2 linked regions of the Homo sapiens genome follow. The protein of the gene in region 1 purifies or fractionates together with the protein of each later gene. This does not show direct contact. Each region holds a gene or a part of one and is shown on either strand. Other genes may lie near its edges.

What was found. The genes of interacting proteins can lie anywhere in the genome.
Region 2: the proteins of VANGL1 (region 1) and RPL22 purify together in Homo sapiens (affinity purification with mass spectrometry; 2 studies listed by BioGRID and IntAct, with this or other methods). This does not show direct contact.

The regions. Positions count from the first base shown.
Region 1 is NC_000001.11:115,679,366-115,687,187, reverse strand, and holds part of VANGL1 (vang-like protein 1), read right to left. Parts: intron 4,825-7,822; coding exon 4,691-4,824; intron 3,245-4,690; coding exon 3,112-3,244; intron 1,896-3,111; coding exon 1,661-1,895; intron 1-1,660.
Region 2 is NC_000001.11:6,196,433-6,204,301, forward strand, and holds the start of RPL22 (large ribosomal subunit protein eL22), read right to left. Parts: upstream 3,164-7,869; 5' UTR 3,142-3,163; coding exon 3,130-3,141; intron 1,325-3,129; coding exon 1,220-1,324; intron 1-1,219.

The sequences.
Region 1 (7,822 bases):
ATGTGTATATATGATTGTAGGAAATAGTTTTCCTAGGAGAGAGATTAGTGAATCAATACAGAAAACTTTTTGGTTTCTTACTATTTCTACATTGCTTTCCTAAGGGTAGTTATTGGTTGACAATGTAACCAGCAGGATACACATATAGTGCAACATATAAACAGAAGTCCTTATAAAAAAACAGCTACCAAATGTTACACATGTACCACATGCCAAGCTCATCTACTCTCTACCATGCGATTTACATGCCTTGTTGCCATATTCAATGTAATTCTTACACAACAACCCTGTCAGAGAGATATTATTATTATCCTCATTGATACAACAGTAAACAAGTGTAGAGGAACTGAAAGAGTTAATTCACGTGATGTGCTTAAAACAGTACCTGTCATATGAAGAGGCCAGACTAAATTGCTATTATTATTATTGGTAAAAATAATGCTATGGCTTTGTCAGGCATTTTGGGTGTTACAGAGTCAGTTTTACCAAACGGTCTTTTAGATTACAGTATTTAGCACACTTTTAGGGATATTACAAGAAACAGCCATATATCTAATAGAGGGTAGAGTAATTTGTGCACAGTCACAAAACAATTAAGTGGTGGAGCCAGGATTTGAACCCACTTCTCTGTAGAGAAGTCATTTGCTGTATCTTTACTCTAGTTTGCCTCCTTGGCCACAACTCTCTATTAGATACATGGCTGTTTCTTGTAACACTTCTTAAAGTGTCCTAAATATCATAATCTAAAAGACCACTCAGTAAAACTAATTCTGTAACACCCAAAATGCCTGATGGCATTTTTTTTTTTTTTTTTTTTGGACGGAGTCTCGCTCTGTCGCCCAGGCTGGAGTGCAGTGGTGCGATCTTGGCTCACTGCAAGCTCTGCCTCCTGGGTTCACGCCATTCTATTTTTTACCAATAAATAGAGCTATTTAGTCCATCCTCATCATATGACAGGTACTGTTTCAAGCACTTCACATGAATTAACTGTTTCAGTTCCTCTACACTTGTTTGCTGTTGTATCAATGAGGATAATAATAATATCTCTCTGACAGGGTTGTTGTGTAAGAATTACATTGAATATGGCAACAAGGCATGTAAATCGCATGGTAGAGAGTAGATGAGCTTGGCATGTGGTACACGTGTAACATTTGGTAGCTGTTTTTTATAAGGACCTCTGTTTATATGTTGCACTATATGTGTATCCTGCTCTTTCAGTTCCCAAAACATACAAATGAGATAGTTATTAGTATTATCCTAACCAATTAACAGGTTAGGAAACTGAGGCACAGAGCTATTGCCATCTGCCCAAGGTTATGCATCTAGTTGGTGGAGGAGCCAGGTTAGAATGAATCAGTTCAGCTCCAGAGTCCACAATGCACCCCTAATCACTATTCCATACTGTCTCCAATCACTATTCCATACTGTCCTCCAAGCGAAATTCTCTCCTCTGTTAGAATCCAGAGGCCTTCGAAAGGCACATTTAAAAAAACAATTGTACTAACATAACATAAAATAAGTGAGAATCACTAATTCTTATTACTTGAGTTTTAGAGATGCCTTTCGATTTTATCACTTCTAGTAACACGCTATAATTCAACTGGCCAAGCTCAGTGACAAGCCAGGATGACGGTGGCAGAGCCCGCCCGGAGCAGCGCACCTTGGGGGTCATGCCGTTGGTGATGCAGAAGGCCAGGTGCTGCAGGATGCTCTCCATGCTGTGGTAGTTCTGCTGCCGGGTGATGCGCAGGTACTTCTGGAGAGCCCTGGCCATGGAGGGGAAAATGGCCTGGGCGGCCTCCCTAGGGTCCATCACCTCCCCTGGGGCTTTCTGCTGCTCCTCAGCCTGGAGACGCTGAATGTGGATGAAGGCCTCTTCCACTGCAACCACCAGCCTAGAAGGTGATGCAACACTAAGTAATCAGGATGGTGCCTGCCACAGGGTGTGAGAACAGAATGACGCTTGTCTACCCTGCTGCGGCCCAACCTGCCAACATACCCAAGGCCCAATCACGCTGCTTGCATCCTTAGCTGTCCCTCAGAGAGTGGAGAGGGAGGAAGGGAGAAAGAAAGGCAACAGCAAAAATAACATGTGGAACAGGGGCCCCAGGGGTTGGGGGAAAGGAGCCCCAGGACTGGGAGATGAACTCTGTTCTGAATTCTGCCACCAATGAGCTTGGGAAATGCACTAGTCCTTTTTTCATCTCTGCAATGGTTAGATGAAAAGAGTTCTGAGGCCCCTCCGACTGGCTATAAAAGGCTCTGTACAGAGAGAGGTGGCTGGTGGTGCAGAAGCAGCCCTACAAAGAAGCAGAGCTGCGTGCTCCCTGGTCCAGCCACCCACACCAGCAGCCCCTGGGAAACAGGAAGAGGCACAGCACACATGATGGAATGCACCTCTGTCCCCTTCAGTGAATATGACCTGACGGTGAACACCAGCAAGGGTCCAGGGGTGCAGAACAGACCCACTCAAGTATGGGCTGGGGGCCAGGAGCATCAGCATCACGCAGGAATCTGTTAGAAATGCCATTTCTTGGGCCCAACTCCACACCTATTGGGTAGGGTCTCTGCAAGCAGGGCCCAGAACCTGCTGCCTGTATTTGAACAGCCCTCCCAGTGATATTCATACAGGCTTCAGTTTGAGAAACACTGGAGCAAGGTGCACTCCAAAGGTGTCCCAGCAGGTCATGTTTTTAAACAGAAACCTCATTCTAGTGGTAAGAAAGGAAAGATTGAAAGTCTACAAGAGGCCGGGCATGGTGGCTCATGCCTGTAATCACAGTACTTTGGGAGGCTGAGACAGGCACATCACTCGAGGTCAGGAGTTTGAGACCAGTCTGGCCAACATAGCGAAACCCCATCTCTACTAAAAATACCAAATATTAGCCGGGCGTGGTGGTGGGCGCCTGTGATCGCAGCTATTTGGGAGGCTGAGGCATGAGAATCACTGGAACCTGGGAGGCAGAGGTGACAGTGAGCCAAGATCTTGCCACTGCACTCCAGCCTGGGCAACAGAGTGAGATTCTGTCTCTAAATAAATAAATAAATAAATAAATAAAATAAAAATTTAAAAGTCTGTAAGAGGGTACTGGCATCAGGAGGGCAGTATACCTTGCTTTCCGCTTCTTTACTCGCCGTTCATGTTCGGCCTCTTCATAATACAACTCGTTGTGGCTTGAGTCCCTGCGCCGAGCAGCTGCAGCAATCATGGCCCGGGACTGGCCAGTGGCATTGTTACTGGGGCCTTTGGGGAAAGGACAGTGAAAGAATAGTGTTAATACCACGAGGGTGGGAAACAGAGCAGAAAACTAGTACCCAATCTGTCAGTGTTGTCTACCCACCCCCTATGGAACACACACACACAAATCCTAAAGGTCACTTCCCAGGAGGGTGAACTGTGCCCCGGCTCCACATTCACTATGTCCAAAGCAAGGGAGCAGAGGAATCTCCCTAAACCCCAATCTGGTCAGTGGAAATGGAAAAAGAACTCAGAAGGGCATGAAGAACGGTGGCAATTAAAATGTTGGCCAAAAACAACACATAGAGTGTGCTGAAGATGTTACCATCTGTTACATAAAGTTTCAGTTTGGCCATAAGGGCGGCTGGGACATCAAATTTCAGCAAGACAATGAGACAGAATGAGAGGGATGGGGAGACCAAGGACAGACAGACAGACAGACAAAAAAGAAAGTCAAAGGACATGAGACACTGAGTCTACAATGGAAAGCAAGCTATGCTAGAATGTCATGGCAGCCACAACTTTTCTAGGAAATACCAATGCTTGAGGGTGTGCAACGTGACCCGTTAATGAATACAGACTCAGAAGTCCTGTCCTGTCCCCTGACCACTGACCACCTTAACTTTTCAGAAACATAGGCAGATTTCAGGCTTTCTTACGGATGATCTACTTGGCTGGTGACTTGGTTTCACTAGTGGGAATCTTTCCTAAGTTTTTAGATCACAGGTGAAATTTATCAATCCTTCAGGCTTCGTGAGGGAGCTCACACCTCATATAGCCAAAAAAAAATGAACAAACAAATAACTGAAAGGATATTGCCAACAAAAACTGACACTGTATATAAATCACTTGACTTGTTGAAAATATAATCCTCTCCTAGGGTTTGCAAAGTTCTTGCCCTCACCCAACATACCCAGGAAGAAATGACACCGCATCCTGTTTCTTGCACTTAACCATGTGATACCCTGAAACATAGCTTGGACTTACCCAGCCTGGCCTCCAGCCTCCTGCCACCCACTCAACTCCGGCTCCTAGCCACGAGTAAGAAGTGCCCGCAGGTATCTCACCAGATGCCTGGACTACTGAGATTTCTAGTCTTAATGATTTAGGTAGCTTTCTGAGTTTGTGGGTAATGTGCACCAATTTTGAAAAGCAACCCTTTCCTAACAGCTTCCAATATAAGATGATCCTGGCAGAAGGCAGGAAACACACACCGCTGCTGTTTTCAATCATAAAATCCCAAAATGAACAGGCTTCCAACACAGGTAGATGGTAAATCAACATTCCTCTAAACATGTGTCTGCCTACATAAAAAAGAGAAATTGTTCTGAAACAAGAATGTACCATAAAGGTAGGCCCAGAGAAGAAGTCGAACCAAACGTACCATGAATCTTAAATAGTCACCCAACTGTGCCCCTGTGAGCACCACGGACACCCTTTCAAGGCACATACCATCTACATTGTAGACTTTCAGCCCGGCCATATGCTTGGCTGCTCGGAATTTGGAGGCTGTTAGGAGGTTTGGGTTATAGATGGTGAAATCTTTGTAGTAATTTTCTAGGACCACCAATGCTGCTCGCTGGATACTGAGAAAAAAAGAACAAAATTAATGCAAAGCTTTTTCACTGAAGAAGCAGGTCCTAAACGAAAAATCCTCTTTTGGAGTCAGGTAAAGGAACACAACATCAAAGATAATCTCATACAGAAGTCCACTGGGTTCCACCACACTTCTGGTCTCCAGGATGAGAACTTAAAGCTGAAACTAAGCCCCATGGCCAGGTGACTTCTGTGCCCTCTCCTGGACCTGTGATTAGCCACATCCCATCTAGCCCTTTGTTGAAAGAGGAAGAAGTTGTAACTCATAACTTACATTTAGCTTTAGGCACACAAGAACTTTTTCTATTTTTCCTCGGTTTACAAAAGAAGAAACTGAGGATGCCCCCAAAAGGGCAAGAGACTTACTAATGGTTGCAGAGCTAATGAGTGAAAGAACAAAGTATAGATTCAGGTTTCTCAGGTCCTCATTCAGGGTTTTGTCCCCTAGGCCTTGGTATCCCTGGGTATAAGGAATCCTGGAACTTAGGTTTTATACAGACCAGAACAACTGCAGCCATCCAGGGCAGAGCGTACTTAAGAGGGCCTTGGCCACGCGCGGTGGCTCACGCCTGTAATCCCAGCACTTTGGGAGGCTGAGGTGGGCAGATCACCTGAGGTCAGGAGTTTGAGACCAGCCTAACCAATATGATGAAACCCCGTCTCTACTAAAAATACAAAAATTACCGGGGTGTAGTGGCATGCACCTGTAATCCCAGCTACTCGGGAGGCTGAAACGGGAGAATCACTTGAACCCAGGAGGCGGAGGTTGCAGTGAGCCGAGACTGCACCACTGCACTCCAGCCTGGGCAACAAGAGTGAAATTCAGTCTCAAAAAAAAAAACAAAAAAAACAACAAAAAAAAGAGAGCCTCCGCTGAGACCACTTGATCTTTCTGGGTCCCCCTGCCCCTTGGAGTGCTATCTCTGGCCTTTGGCAGAGGGGTATGAAGGTGACTATCTATGTTCCGATATTCTAGGTCTCCAACTATCCCCTGCTTGGTCCTCAGAGAGCAGCAGGGGAACAAAGAACAGGTACCATCAACAAGTGGGAGAGAGGATGTGGGAGGGTACTTATAATTGGAAATGAGTATAGACAGCAAAAGAATATGCCCTTGGTCTATGGTGCAGAACACTTGCCACTTTGAAGAACACCTTGCAATGATACAGCAAGGGTTTGCACATACCTGATTCTCATTTAACCCTCACAATCATTCGAGGTAAGAAAACTGAGGCTCAAAAATCTATGACCTGCACAACAGTATGCATTTAATAAACAGGAGAGCTGGAACTCTGATATGATTTACAAACCTCCAAGTTGGGCTTCCCGGTAACATGCGGACTCTGTGTAACAGCGTACGTGCTGACATCTCCAACCACCACCATGTTAAATACCACAGATATATTTTTATCTTGCCCTTTGGATTTTCCTTTCTAGTACTCTGCTAAGCAGATCGGCTTACAAGGATTATTTGCAGTAGCCAGAGCACCAGGATGGGGCTCCCTTTGATTCCTGGATGACCACACTGTGTTCCAACACTCTCCAGGTGGCTCAGGGATCCTCACTTCACACCAAGACAAGGGAGCTCCTAAACTATCCACTGGAAATTCTGTCTACCCACCCATTTGGCTCCCCTTGGAGCTCTGCTTCAAGACTTGAACAGAATTGAATATGGAAGTCAGTCAGCTAACCTGCTTAAGAGCAGAATCATGGTAAAACTTTCTGAGTTATATCCCCAACAGTGCCCGCATTCAGTTGGTACTTAATATCGTCCTAGATAATGTACAGTCATGTGAGGCTGGGGAACACTATCAGGGGAAATCCGGTGAGACCAACTTTGCATAATGGAAGTAAACCTAAGACTCCTAACAGCAAATCTGCATTTTGAAAATTCTGACCATTCAGTTACTCAGTTGTTCACTCGTCATTCCATATTTGAGTGCCTGTGTCTGCTAAGCCCTGGGAATATGAAGATAGACCTTAGCTGGTACCTGGAGCATGAACCCCATGACAGTGAGTATGTTCTCATGCTGGAACACGTGGGGCTGAGTAACCACGGAGAAGAGCTTCTGGCTGCCTGGGACAGGGTGCAGCCTTCCTGAGGAGGCGGACTTCCGTGGAGGTTTGTGTGTCACGAGAGCTCTTCCTGCAGAAGTCTAGTCTGCTTGCCCTGAAGGTCTCACCTGGCAATCTCCAAGTCAATGTGGCTCCAACTCCGTCCTTGCCCCCTGTCCATGGCATTCTCCAGAGAGGGGCAAGTGTTTCTTTATTCCTACCCCATCCAGAGATTCATTGCAACCCTCTCCCTGATCTCTCTCTCTCTCTCTCTCACATACACACACACACACACACACACACACACACACACACACTCCCTGGTGTGTGCCTAGCTCAGCTCCCACCCCTGTGCATGCCTTTTCTGGAGTGCCTGGGCTTTCTGAGGCTCCCTCCACATGGCTGTAAGACTCAGTTTATACACACAGACCCACTGGGGTTCAAACTCACTTCATCCCCCCTCCTCCACTGATAAAGAAACATCTCTAGGCCCCTGGATTCCAACAGAAAAGCATTACCCTGATCTAAATTTAAAAATTAAAAAGCAATCATCAGAAGTTCTCAGAACCATTTTCAACTCAAAACTATCTTGTGGTTGCTGGGTTTTGCTTTTCTGTTCAGCGAGGCTGCAAGGAGGGGTCAAGGGAATCCCATTAATTCAGCTGGGGCCTGTGAGGGGATGGGTGGGTCGGAGCCTCCTGGCTGTGTCTCTCACCCTCCACCCTGTGAGTGTGATGCACTGCCCAGAGCAGTGGCTTCTGTCTCCAGCAGGGCTCCCGGCCCACCGCCTTCCAGCACGGGGCCTCAGCAGATGCTCTCCAAATGGGCCAGCTCTCCAAATAAGCCAAGTCCACAGCCCACCTGACAGCCCCTCAGAGCAAAGTCCTGGCGTCCCAGGAAGTGCCCAGGGTGGGGGCGGGTACTGTGGGATGCCAG
Region 2 (7,869 bases), about 110 Mb from region 1:
GGCAATAAACTATAAGAGGTTACCTAAATTCCATTCTGGATAATTCGTGACCATAATTATTTTGTGTTTAAAAATTATTTTTGTTGTAATGATACTGATCCTGGCAATAGTTCAACCTTCTGGAGAATTTAGAGCAAATGCAAATTTAGGAGACTTCTACACACAAATACGAAGTCTGAATCCCCCAAACATGGCTATTAGAGGAAAAAGAATAAAATGTCAAAACCAAACTGCTGAGTCAAAATGTGGCGGAAGGATTATTTAATATTTCTAGATTGCAATAGGATAGAGGAATATTGGGGAATGGGCCAAATACAGGGGCAAAAAATCAGCACAGAGCAAGATCTGAAGAAAAAAAAAAAAGCTCCAATTACAATTCAGCAAGCAGGGTACTTTAAACACTGAAGCTCAGATGCTTCATAATATAGAAAAGCTTCGGGAACTGCTGCCACCTGTCCAAAGCTCCACATCAAAGCAGTGAGACCCAGGACAGAGGCAGCCCATAGTCAGGATCAGGGTCCCTCACTTATGCTTAAACACACCAAACAGCAAGGGGGATGCCATGGACCCAGTGAAATTTGTCTGTTTCTCAGTAACTTTTTTTGTTTTGTTTTTGAGACGGAGTCTCGCACTATCTCCCAGGATGGAGTGCAATGGTGCGATCTCTGCTCACTGCCACCTCCGCCTCCCGTGTTCACGCGATTCTTCTACTGCAGCCTCCCGAGTAGCTGGGATTACAGGTGCACACCACCACACCCAGCTAATTTTTTTGTATTTTTAGTGGAGACGGGGTTTCACTATGTTGGCCAGACTGGTCTCGAACTCCTGACCTCATGATCTGCCCGCCTCAGCCTCCTAAAGTGTTGGGATTACGGGCGTGAGCCACCGTGCCTGGCTTGTTTCTGGGTAACTTTTAAGTAAAATCATTTGTGGAAACTAAAGGAGAAAAACAAGATAGTCCTCTAACACCTCTGTGCTAGAGCCCTTCTTGCTTATTCTAAGCCCATCTCCTTTTACTCCTCACAACTGTTGCACACACAAGAAGAAACAAGACTTGGAAACAAACAAGTAATCTGCCCACATTCCCAGGGTGAGATGATACAGCCAGACCTGTGAAGCTGCCTATAAGCCTGAAAACAGAAATGTACCCCAGTAGGTTTTCTCAACAGTATCTCAAAATGTTCGTGACCACCCGAGTGGCAATAAGGATGTAACTTACAAAATTGGCAGCATCCATGATTCCATCTTCTACAGGGTGGGTGCAATCAAGAGTGAACTTCAGAACTTGCTTCTTTTTTTTGCCCCCCTTCACCACAAGCTTTTTCTAAGAAAATACACAAATGATAACAGAGATGAAGTTTCAGTCAGTCGGAAAAACAAGATTAACAGAACCAGAAACGTCATAGGTATAAAAGTCCATACAAATACAAAACTAACGGAAGTGTGCTCCCTTTGCCAGAGGGCCAAGAGGCATCACTGCCTGAGTGCCAGAGGTATAATGGGGCAGATGCTGCTGTACAAGCTTGGGGCCTGGGGTCATGCCCTTTTGATGGGGAAATCATTCTAGCACTCTTGACTCACTCAAACTTTCCAGTCTCCCCAATCTCTACAGGCATGAAGGTCTCTTAGTTTATGAACCACAATAAAATGAACACTTCCTTTTGTTTGCCCTAACATTCCCAATTTCAAAAAAATACTATTTTTCCAAAATTAGAGTGCAGGCATACAAAATGCCTTGCATACCCACAATTTTCATATGAAATCAATCCTTGTCCTACATGTTCAGAGTAGGGTCCTGATCCGTCTTAGCTCATCTCCCTTAATCCTGTCTCATCCACCTTCTCATGAAGGGAGTTGCAAAGTATTCTAGGTGCCTGTCCACTCCAGCTTGGACAAGGTTAAGGCTAAAACCTAGAATCTTATTACAACACTACCGTCAAGAACTTCTGACATTTTGATTCGCTTCATCTATGCATTAGTACTTCCAAACCACCCGGCAAAGCACATCCTACAAGGTTCCAGTTTCTTCACTCTTACGAAGAAGCTTGTGTTAATCTTATCTCTCTACAAACTTGACACCATTAATGCACTTGTGCATCGTACCAACCTGTACTTTCACGTTTAAAAGCTCTGCAGAACTAAATAGACTTTTCCAAAAACACATCTTACCTCCCTTCATGTTTAAAAGAACTTCATCTAAAACTTGTGTTAACTGGATCAACTTTTCAAACATTTGGCCACTACAAAAATCACTGATTTATTTTTTACAACGTCTCTTCGCAGTAATAATCTAAGAGGGGTACTTTAAGATCTATTCCGAACACACACAATCAATCAAGAGACCTACCCACAACGGGCTTGATACTTCTCCATCAAGGTTTTAAACCAAAAGGCATTCAAAAGCCCAACCAGACAGAAAGAGCAGAAGAACCGGAAATGTTAACCAGGGAGTCCCAACAAAAGAGGAAAAGTAGGATCTTGGGACGAAGAACACGGAAAAACAACTTTCTCAAATAACCTAGGAGGAGGGCGCCGCACAGCCCAGTCCCAGCATAGCTAAAGGAGAATGCAATGAGAGCCTTCTCCCTACACCACTGCAACACCCGTTTGGGTCTGTACAGTGCGCCCTGATAAACTAATTTCCTCTGGGGACGCTAAAAAGCTCCTCAAACCCAGGCCTCCTCTCCGAAAGCACGCCGACCAAGCCGCCCTTCCGCGGATTCGTCCCCGAGTCTTGGCCGTGGACTTCCGAATGCGCGGCTCCCCAGGGTAGCAGGTCCCGTTCTTCTTCCCCGCCCTCCACCCAGGTAATCAGGCCCCCGGCCGGGGTCCGAGGACCAGTGGCCGGCCCAGACCGCAGTCTCCAGGCTCCAGCTCCCCGCTAGCCCCTAGCTGGGGCCCCGGGCCTCCGAGACCTCCCGGATCTCCCTCACGAGCCTCGGGCCGCGGCCTCCTCCGCCTACAACGTGCTGGGATCGGCAGGGGCTCTGGCCCGCTCCGGCCGACCTGCCAGCCCACCCCAGCAGGACGCTGCAGGGCGCCGTCCCCAGCGAGCCTGGGTAGATGCCGGGCTCGGCGAGGCCCACGTGCCTCCCCTGGAGCCGAGGCCTCACGCGGAGCCATACTAACCACAGGAGCCATGGCGGCAGCGGAGTTAGAAAGGGAGGTGAGCGAACTACGCAGACGCAAAGAGCCCGCAGCGCGCAAGGCACGCAGGGTCCAGGCCGCACTAATCACTTTGCCACGCCCCTCGTCCGCCACCTTTTCTCTTGGTTATGTACGATAGGGGAGCGATTGGTTTTTCCTGAATGCAAAACGCGTCCTCTCCCAGGCCTGGAGGGTTTCTGGGGAAGGAAGGAGGCCCGGCGGGCTGTCCCACTGCGAACGATCGGAGGGGGGAAGCCAGACTGGACGAGCCCAAAGATAAATAAAGGGGTTGGCTTTACTTTTTGAAAGTCTTGGGAAGAAAAAAGAAATAAGGAAATTCACTATACTGTAAATTACCAGCTAGTGGGATGGAAATCGAATCTACTAATTTGGGGAAGTGGGAAAATTCCTTGTAGCCACCGGGAAATTTCGTTCAGAGGTCCCAATGCCAGACCACTATGGCTTCCTCAAAAAGCCCCAGCTTGGAAGCTCATGCCCAGGGGCTGTCTCCCAGTGCCTGTCCTTTTTGCTGTAGCCAGGCCGCCCCCTCGCTGATCACCACTCCCTAGTTTCCCAGCCCAAGCCTTCTAGTTTCCCATCCCAAACCAGTAAGTAGTTGAGGACCACCAGGAGATCTGGAAAATGCAGATTCCAATTCCAGCGGTCTCAGTGGCCTGAAATTCTGCATTTCTCACAAGCTCTCAGACGATGCTGATGCTGCGAGTCCATGGACCGCATGTGGAGAAGCAAAGGTCCTCATCCCCAGGCCCACAGGTCCCTTGAACTGGGCTACTTTGCACCCAGTCACCCGCTGCGTCCTCACGGAATTATATTCCAGGATCCTGAATTGTAAATCACTCAGTGGCACACACACTCTCCACTCCCTTTACCTGGCTTCAGTGTACTCACCTAGCAAAAGTCCAATCACCAGAAGAGACTGTGCTGATGGGTCTAGCTTTCAACTCAGGCCTCAAGCCGGTTGACCAAGCTCCAAAGCCAGCTGCTGTTCTTGGCTCTATAATGATCAGGCTGGGCCTCTGCAAACACTTCTGCTTTCCAGCTGATCCCGGTTTGGCTCTATCAATAGGGGGCTTTGCTTCCTGCTTGCTCCTGTCCTGTCTGGTGTCATCCACTCTTGCTTCTTTATCCTGGAGGTGGCAGTTGGAACATTCTGGAAGCAGCAGTGGAATCCAGTCTGCACTTATTCCAACATTTGCAGAACCAGCCTCGTTTTCTCCTCAGAGACACCAGCCCTAGCAGAGCAGCACCCTCTCCTCAGATGTCTGAGTTTCACCTCCCTGTGCCCCTCCTCAAGCATCTACATTTTAATAATACCACCTACCAGTGGTAGCTACTTCCTGCAGTTGCTACTGTTAGTATTATACCCCGACAGTTACCTAAACACATCTTTATACCTAGTTAACAATCCTTTATATTAAATTCTCTCAGTTAAAAACTATAATGTGTTGTCTTTTGACTGGACCCTGGCTGATAACGGACCCTAAGCGAGCCCTCAGGGCTACTGACAATCCTAAATCTCTCCCCCAAGGGACTATTTCCCTTTCTTGTTGTTTTTAATAGAGACAGGGTCTTGCTCTGTCACCAAGGCTGGAGTGCAGTGGTGTGATCATAGCTTACTGCAGCCTCAAACTCCTGGGCTCAAGTGATCCTCCCACCTTGGCCTCCCAAATTGCTGGGATTACAGGCATAAGGCACTGCACCTGGCCCAAAAGACTATTTCACACCTCAGTCATAATGCCAGCCCCTTCTTCCTAAACCTCCCTCTCAGCAGTTGACTTTTATTGTTCTTTCCTTTTTCTTTCTTTTTTTTTTTTTTTTTTCTGAGACAGGCTCTCGCTCTGTTGCCCAGGCTGGAGTGCAGTGGTGCGAATACGGCTCACTGAAGCCTTGACATCCTAGGCTCCAGCAATCCTCCCACCTCAGCCTCCTGAGTAGCTAGGACCACAGGTGTGCACCACCATGCCCAGCTGCATGTTTTTTTGTTTTGTTTTGTTTTGCTGTTGTAGAGAGTTGGTGTCTCACTATGGCTATGTTGCCCAGGCTGATCTAGAACTCCTGGGCTAAAGCAATCTTCCTGCCTCAGCCTCCCAAAGTGCTAGGATTACAGGCGGGAGCCATCACACCCAGCCTCCTCCCGTCCTTATCTACACTTGATCTTTAGACAAGACCCACATGCTCTTCCCTTTAAATATGACTCCCCAGGCCAATGTGTGCAGCCTCTACCCCTCCCTGGACTCCCCACAGGTACAGCCAGTGGCATCCTTGGCATCTCTAGACTAGTGTCCCGTAGATCACCCTGACCCTCATGAGCCCATTCTCACCTCTTCACCCTCACCCCCACCTCCCCACACTCAAACCCTCATCCCTCACCCCACACCCCCTGCCCCGCCCCCACCTCTCCAGCCTCACCCCCATCCTCCATCCTCACTCCCATGCCATGTTCAGCCCTACTCCCCACCCTGAGCTCCTTCATCTCCAGCCACATTGATCTGCTAGTCTCTAAATGTCTTCCCATTTCTGGGGCTTTGCACTTGCTCTTGCCTCTGCTTGGAACTTTTCCCAGCTTTTCTATTTTTGTTTTTCTTTCGAGACAGGGTCTTACTCTATCACCCAGGTGGGACTGCAGAGGTGCAGTCACAGCTCACTGCAGCCTCAACCTCCTGGCTCAAGCAATCCTTCCACCTCAGCCTCTCAAGTAGCTGGGACTACAAGCACGAGCCACCATGCCCAGCTAAGTTTTAGTATTTTTTATAGAGGGGGGAGTCTTGCTATGTTGCCCAAGCTGGTCTTGAACTCCTGGGCTCAAGAGATTCACCCACGCTGGCCTCCCAAAGTGCTGGGATTACGGGTGTGGGCCACTGCGCCCAGCCTTCCTGGCTTTTCTTAATTTCTTATCCTCTGGGGGTCTCAAGCTCAGTTCCCCCTCTCTGCTCATGGTTACCTAGTGTGGTCCTCAGCTCGAGCCCCTCCCAACTGCCCTCCATCTCATCATCCTTATTTATTTATTTAATTTTTTAGGCGGAATCTCACTCTGTCACCCAAGCCGGAGTGCAGTGGCGCCATCTCGATTCTCCTGCCTCAGCCTCGCAAGAGTAGCTGGGATTACAGGCATGCACCACTACACCCAGCTAATTTTTCCTTTTTTTCCTTTTTTTTTTTTTTTTTTTTTTTTTTTGAGACAGAGGTCTCACTCTGTCACTCAGGCTGGAGTGCAATGGCGCAATCTCGGCTCACTGCAACCTCCACCTGCCAGGTTCAAGCAATTTTCCTGCCTCAGCCTCCGAAGTAGCTGGGACTCCAGGTGCGTGCCACCATGCCTGGCTAATTTTTTGTACTTTTAGTAGAGACAGGGTTTCACCATGCTGGCCAGGCTGGTCTCGAACTCCTGACCTCGTGATCCACCCGCCTCGGCCTCCCAAAGTGCTGGGATAACAGGCATGATCCATCGTGCCCAGCTAATTTTTGTATTTTTAGTAGAGACGGGTTTTCACTATGTTGGCCAGGTTGGTCTCGAACTCCTGACTTCAGGTGATCCGCCCACCTCAGCCTCCCAAAGTGCTGAGATTACAGGTGTGAGCCACGGCACCCGGCCTATCATCCTTATGATTTTCTTCCAAGCAGTTAATGCAGCCTGTCATTATTTGTTAATCTGTGTACTTGACTAACCTTGGCTGGTGTGTTCCCTTCTATGTGCCCATGGTAGATGCTCTGTAAATACTAGTTGAACAGATGCAGACATGAATGAATGGATGAATGAAGCACTCACCTCCTACCGGGAAACTAATGCATCATTCCTTAACAAAGCACCTACGCGGTTTTGTATACCAGCTCCACCACTTTCTGGGGTAATATTTTCTACTTTTTAAGAGTGTTCTCCAGATTAAATGAGTTAATATAAGTTAAACAGCTTAGAATAAAATATTGGCCCATATCTCCCCACCCTCCCTCCCCTTGTACAAAAAAAAAAAAAAAAGGCCCGGTGTGGTGGCTCACGCCTGTAATCCCAGCACTTTGGGAGGCAGAGGCGGGCAGGTCACCTGAGGTCGGGAGTTCGAGACCAGCCTGACCAACATGGAGAAACCCCGTCTCTACTAAAAATACAAAATCAGCCAGGCGCGGTGGCACATGCCTATAATCCCAGCTACTCGGGAGGCTGAGGCAGGAGAATCGCTTGAACCCGGGAGGCGGAGGTTGTGGTGAGCTGAGATGGCGCCATTGCACTCCAGCCTGGGCAACAAGAGCAAAACTCCATCTCAAAAAAAAAAAAAAAAAAAGAATCTTGGCCCATAAAAGAATGTTGGCCTATAAACACATAAACATTAGCCATTGCTACTACTGTCATTATGATTTGGTCCACAAATAGAACCAGGGCTAGGGACCGGGCATGGTGGCTCACGCCTGTAATCCCAGCACTTTGGGAGGCCAAGGTGGGGCGGATCACGAGGTCAGGAGATCGAGACCATCCTGTGAATGGTGAAACCCTGTCTCTACTAAAAATACAAAAAATTAGCCGGCCGTGGTGGCGGGCACCTGTAGTCCCAGCTACTCGGGAGGCTGAGGCAGGAGAATGGCGTGAACCCAGGAGGCGGAGCTTGCAGTGAGCCGAGATTGCGCCACTGCACTCCAGCCTGGGTGACAGAATGAGACTCAGTCTCAAAAAAAAAAAAAAGAACCAGGGCTAGGGACAGTCCTCAAAAGAAC